2 separate regions of the Homo sapiens genome follow, and region 2 is linked to region 1. The links come from fine-mapping of genetic effects on gene expression. A gene starts in region 1. The other region holds a variant in brackets. All regions are shown on one strand. Distances are from middle to middle.

Region 1 (9,127 bases):
GCTCGCCACCACGCCTGGCTAATTTTTGTGTTTTCAGTAGAGACGGGGGTTTCACCATATTGGCCAGGATGGTCTCCATCTCCTGACCTCGTGATTTGCCCTCCTCGGCCTCCCAAAGTGCTGGGATTACAGGTGTGAGCCACCGCACCCGGCCTCTCATGTAAAATAATTAAAAAAAAAAAAATTCTGGGCCGGGCGCGGTGGCTGACGCCTGTAATCCCAGCACTTTGGGAGGCCAAGGCGGGCGGATAACCTGAGGTCAGGAGCTCAAGACCAGCCTGGCCAACATGGTGAAACCCCGTCTCTACTAAAAAATACAAAAATTAGCTGGGCATGATGGCGGGTTCCTGTAATCCCAGCTACTCCGGAGGCTGAGGCGGGAGAAAAACTTGAACCCAGGAGGCGGAGGTTGTAATGAGCCGAGATCGCGACATTGCACTCCAGCCTGGACGACAGAGTGAGACTCCGTCACAAAAAACAAAAAACAAAACAAGAACCAAAAAAAACACATAAAAAACAAACAACAACAACAACAAACGAAACCTCTAATCACAGGTCAGTTTTACTGTTTCTCAGGTCCAGACTCGTTCTGTGCTGTTGGCAGGGTATCCTGCAGTGGCCACTCCTGTCTTACTAACAGACCCTGATTTTGTCCACAGGATCAACACACCCAGCTAAAACAGCTCAACTTCCTCATCACACAACACAGTTCTGGCCAGTTAGACACACGTCCCCGGAAAGGGCATCTCCAGGAGAATAAAAAGGCCAAGCCACTTTTTGAAGAAAGTCTTTGTCCCTACCCCCTTTTTCTACCTGGAAGTCAGACTCAGGCCTGGAGTGTAGCGGCCGCCTTGGTACCTGGAAGCAACAATCATGGCCGGGAGACCTTACACCTGGCATGGTAGAGCAGACGGAGGAGGGGCCGCCTGGTGAATAGCCTGGCCAACAGCCCCAAACTGCTACCCCTTAAATTCTGGGTAGGTGAGAAAAATAAGTCCTGTCTAAGCTGCTCATTGTTTTAGTTACCTGTAGCCAAAGTTAAATCCTGCCTAAAAGGGTTCTCCCCTCATTTTTATATTACATGCCATTTTTTATTTTATTTTATTTTATTTTATTTTATTTTATTTTATTTATTTAGAGACAGAGTTTCGCTCTTGTTGCCCAGCCTGGAATGCAATGGCGCGATCTTGGCTCACTACAGCCTCTGCCTCCCAGGTTCAAGTGATTCTCCTGCCTCAGCCTCCCGAGTAGCTGGGATTACACGCACCCGCCACCACGCCCAGCTAATTCTTTTTTTTTTTTTGAGCCGGAGTCTCGCTCTGTCGTCCAGGTTGGAGTGCAGTGGCGCAATCTCAGCTCACTGCAAGCTCCACCTCCCGGGTTCACGCCATCCTCCTGCCTCAGCCTCCCGAGTAGCTGGGACTACAGGTGCCCGCCACTGCGCCTGGCTAATTTTTTGTATTTTTAGTAGAGACGGGGTTTCACCGTGTTAGCCAGGACGGTCTTGATCTCCTGACCTCGTGATCCGCCCGCCTTGGCCTCCCAAGGTGCTGGGATCACAGGCGTGAGCCACCACGCCCAGCCAAAAAGTTGTTTTAAAATTTTTTCGAGAGATAGGATCTCGCTTAGTTGCCCAGGCTGGTCTTGAACTCCTGGGCTCAAGCAATCTTCCCACTTTGGACCCCCACAGTGCTGGGATTACAGGGGTAAGCCACCACACCCAACCTCAATCTTCTTGTGATCTGTTATGTTGACAACCAAGACAGCTACTTAGTGGTTGGTTGATGGGTGGACAGTGTATACAGCATGGACACACTGGACAGAGGCATGACTCAATGTTCCAGGTAGGACGGCAACAGATTTCATCACGCTACTCAGAACAGCACAACATTTAAGACATAAATTGTTTCTGGAGTTTTTCATTTAGTATTTTCAGATTTCAGGTGACTGCTGTAACTTGAAGCAAGAAAAGTGAAACTACAGAAAAGGGAGGACCACTGGACGGCTGCTTTCATTCTACGCCCACTTTTTAGAGTGCATTCCTACAATAAGCACCCTAATAATGTAAACCAGGGGCCAAGGGATGCACCTTCCACTCTACTTCCTTCCCCAGAAAAGACCACCTTGGTAAATACAGAATGGCAAACGGTTAAGTGAAACACTGTATAGCTTCTGGCCCTATACTTAGTATTTCTTAACATTTACACAGCATTTTCACATTTCCAAAGCAGAGTACCAACATTTATTAATCCTCACAACACCCCTGTGAGGTAGGTCAGTATGTCCTTTAGAGTCGAGAACTGAGGCAGAGGTCAAGCAAACCTGCCCTGGGCCACAGAGCAGCAGATGAAGGGCCTAGACCTGGATCCAGAAGCTAGGGCTCTCGGTCCAGCATTCATCCACTGGTGGACATCACATGGGCTTATTTTTACCAGCGAAGGTTACGTGAAGGACAAAACGCACTCAGCCAGCAACGGAAACTCAACAGTTCAAACAGCACTGGGGAACATGTCAGTTAAAGAGACGAAACGCTGACCAGCTCATGAATGAGGCAAGACAACATGCGGCTGAGGAAGTGTGGAATCATCACGACTGGGGATTAGACCAAGAACGGGCGCTCAGGAGGGTTCAGGAAAATGTAAACAAACTAGGAACCCATCCAAGGGGTGACAGGCCCAAATGCCTACGGTCTCCAAATGGTAGAAAAATTAGAAAAAGATAGTGGAAAAATCCAACCACGCAACCTTAACTTTAAACTAGGAATGACAATAATGTGTCTAATGTTCATTCACACTAGAAAGGCCGATAATGTTTGTAATATAACTACTGGCGATAGTATCCTATTTGTATGCCAACTTTCATCTCAAGTATTCTGCTTTTCTTTCCCCACAGACAAACAAGTGTTGTTCTTTACAGCAGACCTCTTTCCCTCTACATACCAATCTATCCACTCGCATAACTACTAAGTGGCTCAATGGCCTATGTCTCATGCTTAATTGGCTGAGCTAGGCGCGGAATCCGGGAAACCACAACAGACTGTACTCTGCTCCTGTATTTCAGGAATAACTGTCACTAACCTGCTTCTGTCCGATTCCACCTTCTATGAAGTACACACAGAGGAGCAGTTCATTCTTTTGTAAAGGGATTGGTGGACTTTGTTCGAGATGCCATTTCAAAAGAAATGAGAAAAAAGAAAAACTAAGACCTGCACTGTAAAGCATAATACAGGAGTAGATTTATTACAGCTACTCCACATTTTAGAGAGTGCCACAGTGTCTCGGTAGGAGGCAGGAACCCGAGTTCCTGGTTCAGAAACAGGGTTAGAAACAGTCTCCCGATGGAGCTCAAGTGGCTGTCATCTGCCTGTTCTCCTCAGGTATCGAGTGGGATCAGTTGAGGGCTGAGCAAAAGTGGGGACTGGGAAGATGACGAGAAAAGATAACTTTTCGTAGATTGTTGAGGCCGCAGTCAGACTGAGGAGTGAACAGTGTGAAGGAGAGGTTGAGAGCCTCATGGTGTGGAAGGCATAAGGGTTAGAGGCGAGGTTGGAGGGATGTGGGTGCTGGTGTCTGAGGACTTATTGGATTTCGGGCTGTGTGTCCCTCAGCGTCTAGATTCCTGCTTCGTAGGTGATGAGACGCTGCATGTAGCATGTTCACCTCAGAGACTGTCACTTATGAGGGTGCCCATCATTATTATTTTTGGTGACAAGGTAGCTGCTATTTTCCTGTAAGCAGAAGCTGCGGAAGAAAATGGTGGGATTGGCCGGGAGCGGTGGCTCACGCCTGTAATCCCAGCATTTTGGAAGGTCGAGGTGGGCGGATCACCTGAGGTCCGGAGTTCGAGACCAGCCTCAACATGGAGAAACCCCCGTCTCTACTAAAAATACAAAATTAGCCGGGCGTGGTGGTGTATGCCTGTAATCCCAGCTACTCGGGAGGCTGCGGTAGGAGAATTGCTTGAACCTGGGAGGCGGAGGTTGCGGTGAGCCGAGATCGCGCCATTGCACTCCAGCCTGGGCAACAAGAGCGAAACTCCGTCTCCAAAAAACAAAACAAAACAAAAATGGTGGGATTAAGACCCGCCCCCGTCCCGTCCCCGCCCCTTTTCGCTCCTGCTCCGCCCCTTCCCCGCCTTCTACCTGCCTCCCTCGGTGCTGTCGGTCTGCGCGGGCGCGCAAGGGGGACTGGGACGTTCAGGCGGAAGTGGCGTCAGGGGCGCTTTAGGGACTGGACTTGCAGTGTAAACAGAGACGCTGCAAATTGCTTGTGGACGGTGTAGGCCGCTGCAGGCCACCATGAACCGGCTTCCGGATGACTACGACCCCTACGCGGTTGAAGAGCCTAGCGACGAGGAGCCGGCTTTGAGCAGGTGGGCTCCCGCCCCACCCTGGCCCCCGAGGATTTGGGTCGAGGCCTGGCTTTGGTCGCCTCCATTCGTTGCGCCTGCCGAGCCTACGCAGACCCTAGCGGCTCGGGAGCCTGTCGTGCCTGTTACTTGTGCGAAGCCAAAGGGCTTTCCTGATGGGGTCGCGCAGTCCCGGGGGGAGGCGGTGCCGATGTCGCCTGTAGGAAGAGGGATATTCCGGAATCACGGGGGACCGCGTGTAAATCTTCAAAAGCAATGAGATCGAAACCTGTCTCTACACCTTAGTAGCAGAGTGACGGAAGGCAAGTCAGTTATCCTCGATTACTCACCTGTAAAATTGAACTATAATAACATAATTGTATAACCTATATAACATAGTATAACACACTATGTTTGTTGTGAGGCTCACAGGACTTAATGTGAAGTGTCCATCTTGAAGACTAAACTGCCATAAACAGAAATAAGGGAATATTGAACAGCCTTTTTTATTTTTATTTTTTGACAGGGACTGTTGTATGCTCGCTCTGAGCTACAGAGATAAATCATAAGGTCCTTGTCTTCCAGAGGCTTATAGTATAATAAGGGTAATAAGATAAAGTATATATTTCTTGGCAGAGCATTGTAGAGAATATTGACCTGAGATAGGCACAGAAGAAGGTTCGTGGGATTTCCAGAAGGGTGGGCTTTATTCTACCAGGGAAACTTGAAGCTGTTTTGCCGAGATATTTCCACACAAATTTAGTTATTTCTTAAGCTGTCAGCAGATCCTATTCTTAAACTTTAAAACATTCATTCTGCCTAAAGAAGCTTTCTGTAAAGCCATGCTTTCATTAACAACTTTGGCTGGGTGTGGTGGCCCATGCCTGTAATCCCAGGACTTTGGGAGTCTGAGGCGAGAGAATCTCTTAAGCCTGGTAGTAAAGGAACAGCCTGGGCAACATAGTGAGACCTCATTTCTTAAAAAAAAAAAAAATCAAAAGAACAATGTTTCCTCATATTGTCATGGGGAGACATTGGATGCATGGGAAATCAGACTGCTGTTAAGATTTCTTTTGTTGGGAGTGAGGATAGATACCAGGATTCCCTGTGAAAAAGAGTTTCAGTTAATGGGTCCTGTCTGTGAAAGGAGGTATGTATATATGTATGTCTCAATTATTTATTTATTTATTTATTTATTTTGAGACAGAGTCTCACTCTGTCAGCCAGGCTGGAGTGCACTGGTGCAATCTTGGCTCACTGTAGCCTCCACCTCCTGGGTTCCAGCAATTCTCCTGCCTCAGCCTCCTGGGTAGCTGGGATTACAGGCATGCGCTACCACACCTGGCTTATTTTTTGTATTTTTCGTAGAGATGGGTTTTCACCACGTTGGCCAGGCTGGTCTTGAACTCCTGACCTTAGGCAATCTGCCTGCGTCGGGCTCCCAAAGTGCTAGGATTACAGGCCTGAGCCACGGAGCCAGGACTGTTGTATCATTTTTTTAAGGAAGCTTTATAATTCTGTGACAGTTGCCACTGGTAAGGTAACTGTAAAGATAAATATTATAAAAACAAAACAATGTTATCAGACAGTATTGCCTGTTGTAGGCTCTGAGCCAAATGGTTATTATTTTAAAAAGGGAGATTAGTGTTAGAGAGGTGTCTGTCAGTATTTAATTTTACACTGTTTATAAACTAATACATTGTAGCCTGTTAACTGTTTCACGGTAGCTGACCGAAGACATGAGACTCCTGGGTCAAAGATAAGACTACACATAGCACAGCAAGCAGCATGAGCATCATGTTTGTGTGGCTTGCTCTTGCTTGTCAACCCTACAGGTATTACGCTGAGGGTCCTAGAAGAATGCTGCACATTCAGTGGGTTGGCATCGTGGCTAAAGACTACTTGAGCTTGGAGAATCCACCTCTTTCATAGAAGACAGTAAATACATCTGCTCTTTGTCCTGGAAGGAGACATTATCTCATTCCTCAAGGTTGTTGTTCGCTGCAAACACAATCCTGAGAAATGGCTGGAGTGAACAGTGGTCAGAACCTTGCATTCTTGGCATACTTAACTTGCATATCTAGGGTCCATGATGTATGACTGCCTTTCTCAGCAGTGCTGAAAACTGAGACTTTGGTTGAGATAATGACAAGGATTGAAGAAAATTTGTAGAAAAAATAGCTCTCACTTTGTGATTCAGTTTTTAAAAATTAAACATTTTATTTTGAAGTTTTCGTAGATTCACATTCAGTTATAAGAAATAATACAGGTCTGGTGCAGTGGCTCACATCTGTAATCCCAGCACTTTGGAAGGCCAAGGCAGGAGAATCACTTGAGCTCAAGAGTTCAAGACCAGCCTGAGCAACATGATGAAATCATGTCTTTACTGAAAATACAAAAAATTAGCTGGTATGGTGGTGCATATCTGTGGTCCCAGCTACTCAGGAGGGTGAGGCGGTTGGTTGGCTTGAGCCTGGGAGGCGGAAGTTTCAGTGAGCCAAGATGGCACCATTGCACTCCAGCCTGGGCAACACAGGGAGACCCCCATCTCAAAAAATAAAAAATAATAAAAAAAAAAGAAATAATACAGAGAGATCCTGTGTACTCTTTCCCCAGTTTCCTCCAGTGTTAACATACTACAAAACTATAGTGCAGTATCACAACCAGGATATCTATCTATCTATATATCTATCTATGTATTTTTTGAGACGGATTCTGAATCCTGTAATCCCAGCTACTTGGGAGACTGAGGCAGGAGAATCGCTTGAGCCCAGGAGGTGGAGGTTGCGGTGAGCAGAAATCATGCCACTGTACTACAGCCTGGGCGACAAGAGCGAGACTCTGTTTCAAAAGAAACAAACAAACAAACAAACAAAAAAACCATCCTGGGCAACATGGCGAAACCCCATTTCGACAAAAATTAAACAAAACAAAACAAAACAAAAAAACAGCTGGGAATGGTGGTATGTGCCTGTAGTTCCAGCTACTGGGGAACCCGAGGTGGGAGGATTGCTTGAACTGGGGAGGTGGAGGTTGCAGTGAGCTGAGATCATGCCACTGCACTCCAGGTTGGGTCACAGACTGAGATGCCATCTCAAAAAAAAAAAAAAAAAAAAAAAATTAAAGAAGATTGGAAATATGCAGAACTGGCTTATTAAGTGAGAATAGCTATATGTAATGTATAAGTACATCAAATGTAACCATGTAATACTTAAAATTGTTGTTGGACAGTGAGATGCTGGGAGTTTAAAATTATTTTAATTTTTAAATATTCATATTCTTTTTGATTTAAATGTATGCTAGCTCTGAGGATGAAGTGGATGTGCTTTTACATGGAACTCCTGACCAAAAACGAAAACTCATCAGAGAATGTCTTACCGGAGAAAGTGAATCATCTAGTGAAGATGAATTTGAAAAGGAGATGGAAGCTGAATTAAATTCTACCATGAAAACAATGGAGGACAAGTTATCCTCTCTGGGAACTGGTAAACTTTTGGTTCAATTTTATATATATTTTTGTAAGCTCTGTAAGGGCAGGAACCTTATTTGTGCTCTTCTATGTTCCCAGCACTTTCAGTAGGTGCTCAATAAATATTTATTGAATGAAGGAGTGAATGTATTTGGCAGTCTGAGCTAGAGTCTTCCTTTTCTCATTTAAAAAAGTTATTTATTTATTACTTTAGATTCAATGTCTCATTCTGTTACCCAGGCTGGAGTGCAGTGGCATGATCATAGCTCACTGTAGCCTAAAACTCCTGGGCTCAAATGATCTTCCCACCTCCGTTTCTTGAATAACTGAGATTACAGGCATGTACCACTGTGCCCAGATAATTAAAAAAAAAATTTGGGCCGGGCACGGTGGCTCACGACTGTAATCCTAGCACTTTGGGAGGCCGAGGCGGGCGGATCACGAGGTCAGGAGATTGAGACCATCCTGGCTAACACGGTGAAACCCTGTGTCTACTAAAAATACAAAAAATTAGCCGGGCGTGGTGGCAGGCGCCTGTAGTCCCAGCTACTCGGGAGGCTGAGGCAGGAGAATGGCATGAACCCAGGAGACGGAGCTTGCAGTGAGCTGAGATCACGCCACTGCACTCCAGCCTGAGCGACAGAGCGAGACTCCATCTAAAAAAAAAAAAAATCTGTAGCGACCGGGTGCAGTGGCTCACACCTGTAATCCTAGCACTTTGGGAGGCCGAGGTGGGTGGATCACCTGAGGTCAGGAGTTCGAGACCAGTCTGGCCACCATGGCGAAACCCCGTCTCTACTAAAAATACAAAAATTAGTTGGGTGTGGTGGCACGTGCCTGCAGTCCCAGCTACTTGGGAGGCCGAGGCAGGAGAATTGCTTGAACCCGGAAGGCGGAGGTTGCAGTGAGCTGAGATCGCGGCACTGCACCCCAGCCAGGGCAACAGAGTGAGACTCCGTCTCAAAAAAAAAAAAGGCCAGGCGTGGTGGCTCATGCTTGTAATCCCAGCACTTTGGGAGGCCGAGGCAGTGGATCACGAGGTCAGGAGTTTGAGACCAGCCTGGCCAATACAGTGAAACCCCATCTCTACTAAAAATACAAAAATTAGCTGGGCTTGGTGGCACGTGCCTGCAGTCCGAGCTACTCAGGAGGCCAGGCAGGAGAATCGCTTAAACCCGGGAGGCAGAGGTTGCAGTGAGCCGAGATTGTGCCATTGCACTCCAGCCTGGGTGACAGAGCTAGACTCCGTCTCAAAAAAAAAAAAAAAAATTTGTGGAGACAGGGTCTCACTATGTTGCCCAGGCTGGTCTT
Region 2 (8,000 bases), 80 kb before region 1:
CATTGCCCAAGTACGTCTACACTTGACTGTCTGTTTTATGCATGCATTTCAGTGTTTTTTTTCCCCCTCACCTTTTCTTTCGCTTCAAATTCAACTTGAATTTGGCCCAGATGCTTGCATTTTGTTTTGCACCTGCACACTTTTTAGCTTAAACACATGCCACATTTATTGATAGTTACTTCACATAAAAATGTGACATATATTATGTTGGCTGAGGATTAAAAAGATCAATAAGACAAAGTTCCTGCCCTGAGACCATCACAGTGTAGTGAAGGAGATAGAGTTATAATCCCTTGCAATGAAGTGTATGGGAGTACAAAGTAAAAGTGTTCAACTTTAGGGGAAGGGGTAGTAGTAAAGACATAATGATAGTTACACACTTACATGCATTCACTGCATGTCAGGGACTTTCCATATAAACTCAATTCTCAAATCCCTATGAAATACACCTACTGTTATTCCTATTTGGGAAAGGAAAACTGAGTTGCAGAGACATTAAATAACTTGCCCAAGGTCATACAGCCGGTAGGAGCTGTGGTCAAATAGGCAATCTAGCTCTAGGGCCTGGCTCTTAACCACTGTGCTATTGGTCTGCTTTCCAACAGGGAGGATGGCATGTGTTGGTAATTTGGTTCCTCCTAGAGCACTTGTTCTTACTGGAGCAGAGGTTGCAAAGGTACATGCAGCTAGTACAGAGTATGTAGTGCATAGTGAAAGACTCCAGGCAGTGGGAAGTACTGAGGAATCTTTTTTTTTTTTTTTTTTTTGCTCTATTGCCCAGGCTGGAGTGCAGTGGCACGATCTCGGCTCACTGCAAGCTCCGCCTCCCGGATTCACGCCATTCTCCTGCCTCAGCGTCCCGAGTAGCTGGGACTACAGGTGCCCGCCACCACGCCCAGCTAATTTCTTTTTGTATTTTTAGTAGAGATGGGGTTTCACGGTGTTAGCCAGGAAGGTCTCGATCTCCTGACCTCGTGATCCACCCACCTCGGCCTCCCAAAGTGCTGGGATTACATGCATGAGCCACCGTGCCCGGCCAGTACTGAGGAATTTTAAGCTAGGAAAGACATGCCCAGGCCGGGTGCAGTGGCTCATGCCTATAATCCCAGCACTATGGGAGGCCGAGGTGGGCGGATCACCTGAGGTAAGGAGTTCAACACCAGCCTGGCCAACGTGACGAAACCCCAACTGTACTAAAAATACAAAAAAAATTAGCCAGGTGTGACGGTAGGTGCCTGTAATCCCAGCTACTAGGGAAACTGAGGCAGGAGAATCGCTTGAACCCAGGAGGCAGAGGTAGCAGTGAGCCAAGATCACGCCACTGCACTCCAGCCTGGGCGACAAGAGTGAAACTCCATCTCAAAAAAAAAAAAAAAAAAAAAAAAGGAAAGACATGCCCAGGTGAAAAAACATTGTAGATTATTCTAATATTGAGGATAGATTGATGCTTCCTTTCAGAAAACAAAGAAACCAGTTAACAGGCTAATGCAGCAGTCCAGATGAGAAATGACAAAGGTAGAACTAAGGCAGTGGAAGAGGGATGAAGGAAGGGATGTAGTAAAGAGATGTTTAGGAGATAGAATAGACAGGACATAGTGACTGAATAAGTAATACATGGGCTGGGCAAGGGAGAAGGAGAAAACATAGAATGTAGGAAGGAAGAACAGGGTTAGAGGTTAGGTCATAAGTCTGGTTCCACGTATGTTGGATTTAAAGTGCCTGTGAGGCATCTAACCTGCCCCCACCAAACTAGAATGTAAGATCTGTAAGGCTGAGGATTGTGTCTCTTCACTGCTGTCTCCCTAACATGTAGGACAGTGCTTGATACATTGAGGGCACTCAGTTGTTTAATAAGTGAATACATCCAGGTGGCTATGTCTAGTTGGTAACTTGAAATTCAAATTGGGAACTTAGAATAAAAAGTCTAAATTGGGGATATAATTAGGAATTATTAGTTGAGAATGGCTGATATTTCCAATATTAGCTAGCACCCAAGGGAAACCAGCATTTAAGGACCAGAGCAAAGATGATTGGTTAATGGGGCTGAGAGGGGTAGGAGGCGAATCAGAGGAGGCTTCAGAAGTTGAGAGAAGCTGACGCAGTGGCTCATGTCTATAATCCTAGCACTCTGAGAGGCTGAGGCAAGAGGATCACTTGAGCCCAGGAGTTTGAGACCAGTCTGGGGTCTGTAGAGAGATCCTCTCTCTACAAAAACTAAAAATTAACAGGGTGTGGTCACACATGCATTTAGTCCTAGCTACTTGGGAGGCTGAGGCAGGAAGATTGCTTGATCACAGGAGTTTGAGGCTGTAATGAGCTATGATTGTACCACTGCATTCCAGCCTGGGTGACAGAGTGAGACGCCCGTCACCATTTTTTATTTTTTATTTTTTTTTTGAGGGAGTCTCACTTTATCACCCAGGTTGGAGTGCAGTGGCACCATCTCAATTCACTGCAACTTCTCCCTCCCGGATTTAAGCAGTTTCTTGTGTCTCAGCTTCCTGAGTAGCTGGGATTACAGGCATGCACCACCACGCCCAACTAATTTTTGTATTTTTAGTAGACACAGGGTTTCGCTATGTTGCCCAGGCTGGTCTCAAACTCCTGGCCTCAAGTGATCCTCCTGCCTCAGCCTCCCAAAGTGCTGAGATTACAGGCGTGAGCCACCATGCCCGGCCCCATGTCCAGTTTTAAAAATAATGATTTTTTTGTTTTAAAGGTTGAGATAGTTTTAAGAAAGGAGTGGTCAGAATGATACCAAGGCAGAATACTGCATAGAGGCCAAGAAGACTGAAAAATATCATTGGTTTGGAAATTAGGTACTCATGTAAAGAATTTTGTTTTTGTTTTTGTTTTTTGACATAGTCTTGCTCTGTTGCCCAGGCTGGCATGTAGTGGCACCATCACAGCTCACTGCAGCCTCGACCTCCTGGGGCTCAAGTGATCCTCCCACCTCAGCTTCCCAAGTAGCTGGGACTACAGGCGTGTGCCACCATGACCAGCTGTGAGGCAAAATTTATTTGTAAAAAGATGTGTTGGTGGGCCTGAGAGAATAAACAGCTGCTGGCATTTATTTCTCTGGGCTGGAGGAGGCAAGTTCACTTGTTGAGGGTGGGGTGTAATGTGGTAGTAAAAGTTGGAATTGTTGCTGCAGGGAATCAAAAGAGGAGCTGAGCAGAGTTGCACAGGACTGGACTGCTGAGTGGTTTTCAAAGAGCATATGCAATTTGGAGACCATTAATTTGAAATGGAACAGTACAAACAATGGTGACTTTTCTCTAGCCATACTCAGCAGCCCAAATGTAAAAGTTGACGATTATATTGATCTTGAGGTCAGGTGGCTCATGCCTGTAATCCCAGCATTTGAGAGGCTAAGGTGGGAGGATCGCTTGAGCCCAGGAGTTCAAGTCTAGCTTGGGCAGCATAGTGAGACCTCATCTCTATAAAAAAATAAATAAATAAAAGATAAGTAGATCCTGAGTATGGGAATTTGTGAGCCAGGTATGGTAAAAGAGCAGTGAGAGTTGAAGGGACCAGCAGGAAAGGTATTGGAATGGCATTCATGGAGTGAAGCAGAGGGAGTGCCGACAGACTGGAAATAAATGGAAAGGTCACAGGACTGGAGGTGTTGATGAGGTTACATTGTACATGTGGTAAAAGTGGTGGGGAGAAAGCAGGAAGCAGTTAATTTTATATTACATAAGATTGATTGTCTTCCTCATTGCAAACAGATTTCTTGAAGGCAGGGCTTTTTGTTCACTTTAAATCTTTCACAATACCTGGGACAGTGTTTGCGTATAAGTGCTGAAAAAAAAGTTTATTAAATAGCCGCATATTACTGTATTGCCTAGTGTTTATATTTATTCTATCTCTCTCTCTCTCTCTCTCTCTAAATATATATATATATATTTTTTTGAGACAGAGTTGTGTTCTGTTACCGAGGCTGGAGTGCAGTGGTGCGATATCAGCTCACTGCAACCTCCACCTCCTGGGTTCAAGTGATCCTTCTGCCTCAGCCTCCCAAGTAGCAGGGACTACAGGCATGCACCACTGCACCCAGCTAATTTTTGTATTTTTAGTAGAGATGGGGTTTCACCATGTTGGCCAGGCTGGTCTCAGACTCCTGACCTTGTGATCTGCCCACCTTGGCCTCCCAAAGTGTTGGGATTACAGGCATAAGCCACTGCGCCTGGCCAATCAAATTTTACTTCTATCATGGGGTTTTTAATTGATCATACTGTAATTACCTGAAAATAGTTTTGTAGCCCAGTTGTGGTTACCACCTTTCTTTCTTTCCTCTTCCCTCCTTTACATTCCACAAATATTTGTCGAGAACTTCCATTGGGAATGTAGCAATGAATAAAACAGACAAAAACCCATGTCTTCATGGAGCTGAATTACAGTCATGAAGAGACATTTTTAAAAAGTAAAGTATATTAGGTTTTGAATAGGCATTATGAAGAAAAATGAGGGAGGAGTAGGGATTTTTGGGCTGGGAGGGGAGGATGGTTTGAGCTGCACTTTTAGATAGGGTGGCTAGGAAAGGCCTTCCTGAGGAAGACTTAAGGACTTGAAGGAAGTGAGCTGTGCAGATACGTATCTGGGGGCAGAGTGTTCCAGGCAGAGGGAACCAGCGGTTGCAAAGACTCCCTGAGACGGCAGCATGTTTGTGTGTTCAAAAAACGAGGGCCAGGTGCAGTGGCTCATGCCTGTAATCCCAGCACTTGAGAGGCCAAGGTGGGTGGATCACCTGAGGTTGGGAGTTCGAGACCAGCCTGGCCAAGATGGTGAAACCTTGTCTCTACTAAAAATACAAAAATTAGCTGGGCATGGTGTCGCACGTCTGTAATTCCAGCTACTAGGGAGGCTGAGGCAGGAGAATTGCTTGAATCAGAAAGGCAGAGGTTGCAGTGAGCTGAGATCACACCACTGTACTCCAGCCTTGGCGACAGAGCAAGACTCCATCCCCCCC[T/CT]CCCCAAAAAGGAGGCCACATGGCAGGACTATAGTGAGCCAGAGGAGTGGTAAATTAGATGATATCAGATGGAGATTTTATAGTGCCTGGTAGGCCACTGTAAGGTATTCAGCTTTTCTTCAAGTGGAAACTCCTTAGATTTTAAGCAGAGAAATGATTTCTAGTTTAATGATATCATAGTAGTGGCCCTGTAGGGAATAAATTTATGAGGGGCAAGGGCTGAAGTAAGAGATCAGTTGGGAGACTATTGTAAGAGTCAAAGTTATTTTCTTTCTTCCTTCCTCTTTGCCCCATCCCATCCACTCATCCATCTCTCTACATTTGCTTTGCTGTCAAAATATGAACAACTGACGTCTTAGGGATGTTCTAAGCTAGATACTTCATAGTACACTAGTCAGTATAGTAACTAGTAGTGAATGTCTTCCTAAGTCTTTTTTTTTTTTTTGGAGGCAGTCTTGCTCTGTCCCCCAGGCTGGAGTGCAGTGGTGCAATCTTGGCTCACTGCAAGCTCTGCCTCCTGGGTTCAAGTGATTCTGCTGCCTCAGCCTCCCAAGTAGCTGGGACTACAGGTGCCCGCCACCACGCCCGGCTTATTTTTTGTATTTTTAGTAGAGACGGGGTTTCACCGTGTTAGCCAGGATGGTCTTGATCCCCTGACCTCGTGATCCGCCTGCCTCAGCCTCCCAAAGTGCTGGGATTACAGGCGTGAGCCACCGCGCCTGGTCCAAGTCTTTTTTTTTTTTTTTTTTTTTTTTTTGAGACAGGGTCTCACTCTGTCACCCAGGCTGGAATGCAGTGGCACAATCACAGCCCACGGCAGCCTCAGTCCCCTGAGTAGCTGGGACCACAGATGTGCACCATTACACCCAGCTAATTTTTAAATTTTTTGTGGAGACACGATCTCACTATGTTACCCATGCTGGTCTCGAACTCCTGACCACAAGTGATCCTTCTGCCTTGGCCTCCCAACGTACTGGTATTATAGGCATAAGCTACTGTGCCCAGCCTTTTACTAAGTAATTATATGTGGAACAACAGGTCACAGGTCAGAGTCTTTAAATTGTTCTTCTAATGATAGTACATTTATGTTACTTAATCCATATTTTTTTGTCATAATCTTTCTCTTGACCAGCGACACACATGTTTAACCTAGCCTCTGACAAAAGACAGTCCAATCAATGTGTATTGTTCCAGAAAAAGATTAAGCCATTGAATGTAATCTAATTAGAAATTTCTTCAAACTGAACTCACTAGTTACAGAAAGTTGATTAAATTTTTTTAACCCGAGACAGTCTTGCTCTCTTGACCAGGCTGGAGTGCAGTGGTGCGATCTCGGCTCACTGCAGCCTCCGCCTCCTGGATTCAAGCAATTCTCCTGCCTCAGCCTCCTGAGTAGCTGGGATTACAGGCGCCCACACCACGCCCAGCTAATTTTTTTTTTCTTTTTTATATTTTTAGTAGAAACAAGGTTTCACCATGTTGGCCAGGCTGGTCTCAAATTCCTGACTTTGTGATCCTCCCTCTTCGGCCTCCCAAAGTGCTGGGATGCCAGGCATGAGCCACCACACCCAGCCGATTAAATTTTTATGAAACACAAGTTGTTTGCTTGACTCCGGTCCTTAATAAAACCCTCTAAAATGATTGACTTTTTGCTAAACTGAGAAGAAAATCTGCCTGGACAATTTGTGTACATTTTATGTAATGAACACTAAATCTCACACCTGTAATACCAGTGGTTCGGGAAGCCAAACGGGGTCAGGAGGTGGATCACTTGAACCCACGAGCTCAAGACCAGCCTGGGCAACATGGTGAGATCCCATCTCAAAAATTAGCTGGGCATGGTGATGTGTGCCTGTAGTCCCAGCTACCTGGAAGGCTGAGATGGAATGATCGCTTGATCCCAGGAGTTCAAGGTTAAAATGAGCTATGATTGTGCCACCGCATTCCAACCTGGGTAGCAGTGCAAGACTCTGTCTCTTTAAAATTAAAAAATCTACAATATATTTTATCAGATTTAAGGTGCAGTTGATTGAAAGACTTTTATGTACCACTAAGGAAAAAAAAATGTTGCTAGTTAAATTGTAATTTGTCATCAATTGAAAGACATTCCTGGCTGGGCATGGTGGCTCACACCTGTAATCCCAGCACTTTGGGAGGCTGAAGCAGGTGGATCATGAGGTCAGGGGATCAAGACCATCCTGGCCAACATTGTGAAACCCCCTCTCTACTAAAAATACAAAAATTAGCTGGGTGTGGTGGCACATGCCTGTAATCCCAGCTACTCAGGAGGCTGAGGCAAGAGAATCACTTGAACCCTGGAGGTGGAGATTGCAGTGAGCCAAGATCACGCCACTGCACTCCAGCCTGGTGACAGGGCGGGACTCTGCCTCAAAAAAATAAAAATAAAAAAGGACATTCCTATTTCAGATATGTTATAAAAAATATGCATCTAGAATTGATGAACCATGATAGCATGTTAACTTTTCAGTGATATTTTATACTGATGGTGGGGGGTGATTTTATTTTGGGGACTGGCTTTTCCATTATACATCTTGTTTATTAGAAATAGGACTTAGGCCAGTCATAAGTCCTATTACAGGCTCACGCCTGTAATCCTAACACTTTGGGAGGCCGAGGACGGAGGGGATTGCTTAAGCCAGGAGTTTGACAGTAGAGTGAGCAATGATTGCACCGCTGCACTCCAGCCTGGGCAACACAGCGAGACTCTGTCTCAAGGGGAAAAAAAAAGAAAAGGAGAAGACAAATGGTAGATTGAGTTAATAGCTCTTAAGGCAATATATAAATGGATAACATGCTTTAATAAGGTATACAAGAGAGAATTTAGCCAGGTGCGGTGGCTTACGCCTATAATCCCAGCACTTTGGGAGGCCGAGGTGGGAGAATCACTTAAGCCCAGGAGGTCGAGAACAGCCTGAGCAACATAGGGAGACCCTATCTCTTAAAAAATAATAATAATTAGCCAGATGTGGTGGTGTACACCTGTGGTCCCAATTGCTTAGGAGGCTGA

Evidence for each region. PIP is the estimated chance that this variant, and not a neighbour inherited with it, causes the effect.
Region 2: its variant is fine-mapped to the expression of EAPP in whole blood (INTERVAL, PIP above 0.99).

The regions. Positions count from the first base shown.
Region 1 is chr14:34,534,799-34,543,925 of GRCh38, reverse strand. It overlaps EAPP (E2F associated phosphoprotein), which reads left to right and starts at 4,225. Exons shown (of 6, transcript NM_018453.4): 1 at 4,225-4,371; 2 at 7,651-7,832. The coding sequence starts at 4,298. It overlaps LOC105370447 (a long non-coding RNA gene), which reads right to left and starts at 4,177. Exons shown (of 2, transcript XR_943739.1): 1 at 4,142-4,177; 2 at 2,220-3,740. LOC112268123 (a long non-coding RNA gene) reads left to right here and starts at 472. Exons shown (of 2, transcript XR_002957583.1): 1 at 472-977; 2 at 1,937-2,692. RefSeq lists silencers at 4,048-4,147, 6,089-6,383 and enhancers at 4,288-4,447, 4,098-5,022.
Region 2 is chr14:34,615,337-34,623,336 of GRCh38, reverse strand. All of the region lies in intron 2 of SNX6 (sorting nexin 6), which reads left to right. Among named protein-coding and RNA genes, the nearest start is that of SNX6, 11 kb to the left of the region's middle. The variant T/CT (reference allele first, on the strand shown) is at 4,973.